Regions from separate parts of the Homo sapiens genome. Here region 1 is linked to region 2. The links come from fine-mapping of genetic effects on gene expression. A gene starts in region 2. The other region holds a variant in brackets. All regions are shown on one strand. Distances are between the middles of the regions. Region 1 overlaps STIM1 (stromal interaction molecule 1). Region 2 holds the start of STIM1 (stromal interaction molecule 1).

Evidence for each region.
Region 1: its variant is fine-mapped to the expression of STIM1 in whole blood (TOPMed, PIP 0.98).

The regions. Positions count from the first base shown.
Region 1 is chr11:3,979,575-3,982,074 of GRCh38, forward strand. The region is part of intron 2 of STIM1 (stromal interaction molecule 1); the gene reads left to right. Among named protein-coding and RNA genes, the nearest start is that of PPIAP40, 87 kb to the left of the region's middle. The variant C/G (reference allele first, on the strand shown) is at 1,508.
Region 2 is chr11:3,854,180-3,856,679 of GRCh38, forward strand. It overlaps STIM1 (stromal interaction molecule 1), which reads left to right and starts at 1,485. Exons shown (of 13, transcript NM_001382567.1): 1 at 1,485-2,230. The coding sequence starts at 2,092. STIM1-AS1 (STIM1 antisense RNA 1) reads right to left here and starts at 1,399. Exons shown (of 2, transcript NR_183662.1): 1 at 1,178-1,399; 2 at 144-479. It overlaps MIR4687 (microRNA 4687), which reads left to right and starts at 1,883; the gene lies at 1,883-1,962. RefSeq lists enhancers at 461-530, 740-1,685, 1,901-2,110, 2,261-2,340, 2,351-2,400 and silencers at 871-920, 1,401-1,460, 1,521-1,680.

The DNA of each region.
Region 1 (2,500 bases), 130 kb after region 2:
AGGTAGGACTACAGGTGTGCACCACCACACTAGGCTAACTATTTTTGTAGAGACAGGGTCTTGCTATGTTGCCAAGTCTGGTATTGAACTCCTGGTCTCAAGCAACCCCTCACCTCAGCCTCCCAAGTTGCCGGGGATTACAGGTGAGAGCCACTGCACCTTGGCTACCTTTGTTAATTCTCTGGACATACCTCCTACCGCTTCGGTCTGGCTCCAATCTTCTTTGTCTTATAAACATTTTATGTTTATTTCCAGTCCCCTTTCTTTGCTCAGGTAGTTCTCCTTACCTGGAATTAACCTCTTGTGCCCCTCCCTGCACCCCTAGCCCTGTCTGTATCAATCTTAGTTGTCCTCTAGAATGTGCCAGCTTCATTTTATATGAACCTTCCCTGACTTTCCCATTCCTACTGATCTTCCTCATCTCAATACTAACTCCCATAGTACATAGTCTCTATCGCTCGATTTAGCACTTAATTAGAAATTGCCTTGCTTTGTGCCCTAATGATTTTGATTGTATTGTTTTGTCTATAACTTTGTGTTCCTGCACTAATACTGGCATTATTAAAGCACAACTCATCAGATTACTTCTACCATGTGCCAAGCCAAGCTGATTACATATAAAGTTTTGTTTAATCCTTAACCACTCTGTGAACTAGGTGTTATTAACTCCATTTTAGAGATGATAAAACTATAAATGAGTGGCTTACTTTTGCTTGTTTAATTAATCTAAACTCTGCTCTGTCATTCAATGCTCCCACCATTTGGCTTTAGCTCATGCTGCTAGTTCATGTTATACTGTATTTCCTTACTCTATGCTATAGCCACCCCAGACATGCTCTTCATATCTTATCACTGTGCCCCTGTTCCAGATAAATCCTTATCCTGGCATTTCTCTGCTTCCCACTTTGCCTGTAAAAATCAAGCCAGGTTTGGTGGTTCATGCCTATAATCTCAGCTACTTGGTTGAGACAGGAGGATCGCTTGAGGCCAGGAGTTCTAGACCAGGCTGGGCAACATAACAAGACCCCATCTCTTTAAAAAAAAAAAAAAAAAACCCACACATTTCAGTGCAATGCCTGGAACAAAACAACAACAACAACAACAACAAAAAAAAACAAATAGAAACAAAAGGAAAAAGAAATTTCATTTGTCCACCAAGGCCTAGATCAGGGTTTCGGAACCTCAGCATTATTGATATTTTGGGCCAGATAGTTCTTTGTTGTGGGGAGCTGTCTTGTACATTGTAGGATGTTTAGTAGCATTCCTAGCCTCTACATACTGGATGCCAGTAGCAAACCTTTCCCCTTCCCCCTTCCAGTTTGACAACCAAAAATATTGCCAGTTACTATTGTCAGTTGTCAATTTTCAAACTGCCCCTTGTTGAGAACTACTGGCCTAGATTAAATGTTGCTTCATCCAAGAAATATATATATATTTTTTGGAGACGGAGTCTTGTTCTGTCGCCCAGGCTGGAGTGCAGTGGTGTGATCTCGGCTCACTGCAACCT[C/G]TGCCTCCCAGGTTCCGATGATTCTTCTGCCTCAGGCTCTCTTTCATCATGTTGGCCAAGCTGGTCTTGAACTCCTGACCTTGTGATCCATCTGCCTCGGGCTCCCAAAGCGCTGGGATTATAGGCGTGAGCCACCACGCCCAGCCAATCCGAGAAATCTTGTTTGTTCTCCTACAGTGGGAAGTAATCCTTTCTCATGTTCGAGAGTACTTGGCATGAACCTTATGTTTGTCATGTTGCTCTGTTCTGTATTGTAATTGGGTCCATCCTTAACTGTCCTACCAGATTTTGAGTTCCTTTAGGGGTCATGAACTAGGTTTTATTCATTGCTGTTTCTCATAACATTGTGTTTGGTTCAGGACCTTTCTCTTAAGGGTGCTGAGTTGACGTTATTTTTGAATTTTGAATTCGAAAACAAAGATACTATCTTATTGTTTTATGCCCTTTAAATAGTTTCTCTAGTGCAAAGGAGGAGTACAGAGTGGGCTGGTCAATGGTACTGGGGACAGAGTGCTTTGGACTTGTGAGTTCCCTGTCAGGATAAAAGCTGAAGTCAGTGTTGGGTTGTTTTTCTGGAGTTGCTATAGTCTGGGCTCTAGATATGTTAGTATATGACCTATACGTCTGACCTCCTCTGTGACCTTCTTCCCTACCCTTCTGCCCTATGTTATGAATCATGTGCAGAATCTGGATGGAGGTAAGATTACTGTACTTAAAATGATAGGAAAGACTTTAAGAATAACACATACTATAGGAGCACAAGTGAAGAAAAAAAGGAAAACACTGAGAATGCCCAAAGGCTATGTAGTAGAGCAAAAGTATGTACTTATAAAGCAAGAAAGATAGTTTCAGGTATACTTTTGCCAATTATTAGTTGTTTGACTTTGGAAAGTTTCTCTCTCTCTCTGTCTCTTTCTTTTCTTTTTGTTTCTTTTTTCTTTTCTTTTCTTTCTTTTTTGTTTTGAAATAGAGTCTTGCTCTGTCACCCAGCCT
Region 2 (2,500 bases):
CATGAGGAACTGGGAGCAGGCGAGAGTGTTTCATGCAGAAGCAACAGCAGATACAAAGGCTGTGAGGTGGCTGAGTTTGACGTGGTTAGGAACTTAACGAAGGCTAGTGTGACAGGAGCTTAACAGAGCCGGGAGAGTGGTAGTAGGTTACATTAGCCATGTATTTTTATATCAACGGCCTAACCCTTAAGCCAGGCAGCTGTTGGGCAAATTCGTGTTCCCAGTCTTCAGGGGCCTTGCTCAGAACAGGTAGCTGGTTTAGCACTGTCAGTCAGAGGAGGGACTGGGCCTGATCCTTTCCCCTGCGTCTGGTGCCAAGGACAGGGTAGGGCACAGAGGTTTCAGTCAAGATCTGCTGACAGCACGCTTGAGAAGAGAACAGGAAGTGCAGGCTTTGTTGAAGGAGGCTCAGGCGTGGCTCTGTCTTCTTTGGCGCACTCATTCTCAAGTCGCTGACACCTCCTCCACCAGAGAGGTAGCTGGGAGAATGAGATGCAGGGAGGAAGCATTTACAGGCCCCACCGAAAAACCTTAAAGGGCTGAGAGCTTGAGGGCAGGTAGGAAAAAGGGCTGTGAGAGCTAAGGGAGGGCATCCCACTTAGCTTGGAGGGGAAGGGAGGCGGGGTCGGGAAAGCAGATGGCACCCTTTAGCCCAGACTCAAGGAATGTGTAGGGGAATTTTAGCTAGAGTGGTTTGGACATTTCATTTTGCTTTCTGGCATCATCATTTCCTCAGAAAACACTCGCAGGCCCCAGTGGCCCTCGTGGGCCTCCCCCGGGGCGGGTCTTAGCTTCACTCGGCAACCCTCTGCAAAAGAGCAGGCCCTCCCAGGAGCGCCGAGTCCTGTCTGCAGTTTGCTGATTTTCCCACCAGGGGCCGCTGCGCATGGGCGACGAAGCGCGCGGGTTCCCAAGCCGCAGAGAGGCGGAAGCCGATTGGTTGTCAGGCGAGGCGCGAGGGCGGAGCCTGGGAACTGGCCGGGAGTTGGGGGCTGGGAGCTCGCCCCCGGGCCGAGCCGGGTCAGGCTGTTGTCGCCTCAGGCAGCTCCTGGGAGGCTAACGTCGTGTCCTGGGCCTCTGTTTAGACAGCTCTAGAACTGAGGCGAGTGGAGCAGCACCAAGGCCCGGAGATCGGGGCAGGGCAGCTGCTGTCGCCGCCGCCGCAGGCCTGAGTTACCTGAGTAACTGCGGGTCAGGGACCCGCCCGACGGCCCGCGGTTGGCGCTGGAGACTCTCGGTGGGGAAAGGGAAGCTGGGACTTGATCCTTTGCGCGGGATCCTGGCAAAGACTAGCGCGGGCCGGGGGTCCGGGAGAGCCCGCTAGGGGCGGGGATTCCGGGGAGCCGTCTTCACCGGTTATTCCGGGATCCAGCTGGGCGCTGGGGCTGGCCCGGGCTTCGCTGGGGACCGGGCGGCGCGGGGCGGGCGCGGAGACGCACGCCCCCGCCCGCCCCGGGCCCGCCCCGCGCCGCCCGCCCGCCTGGAAGCCGCTGTCCTGGGCCTGGCCGGTGTGCGTCCGCCTGCTGGACCTGGGCACCGCCAGCCGCCTGGGCACGGGACTGGGCGGGGGCGCTGACCTCGGCCTAGGAGGCCCAGGATCCCGGAGACGCCCGCGCCCTCAGGACCCTGCGGGTCGCACGCCCTCCCCAGCTTCTGCTGCTCGCCGCTCTTCGGCAGGGCGAGGTCAGGTGCCCCCTTCTCGCCTCTCTTCTCTTCTCTTCTCTTCCTCCTCCACTTCTGTGCCCGCGGAGACTCCGGCCGCCCCCTTCCGCAGGGGTGTAGTAATCTGCGGAGCTGACAGCAGCCCCGCAGCCACCCTGCCCGAAGTCTCCGGAAGCGGCACGAGCTCAGGCCGCCGCAGCCCCGGCGGACCCACTGTTGGACCTGAGGAGCCAGCCCTCCTCCCGCACCCAAACTTGGAGCACTTGACCTTTGGCTGTTGGAGGGGGCAGGCTCGCGGGTGGCTGGACAGCTGCGGAGCCGCGAGGGCATCTTGCCTGGAGACCGTCGGCTGCACTCCCGGGCTCCTGGCTTTGCCTCTGGGATCCCGAGGTGTCCACATCAGACGCATGTTGACTGAGACCTAGAGTCATGGATGTATGCGTCCGTCTTGCCCTGTGGCTCCTCTGGGGACTCCTCCTGCACCAGGGCCAGAGCCTCAGCCATAGTCACAGTGAGAAGGCGACAGGAACCAGCTCGGGGGCCAACTCTGAGGAGTCCACTGCAGCAGGTAAGGCCTTGCTGCGGGCTGGACTGGGCTGGAGGCTTTGGCTCAGGACTGAGTGGCCCGAAGTGGGCAAGTTGAAATCTAGGTTTGTACATGTGAGGTTCATGGAGGATTCACACATGGCACTGCCTGTTCCAAGTAGTTCAAGAAGTTCTTTCTGGTCAGTAGTCATGGCAAATGCCTGTATCTTTCCTGAACAACTTTCCTCATCCCCCGCACTCAGGATTTTTTTTGTTGGCAGTAAGAAGAAGCCTTTGGGGCAACTTGACCTTT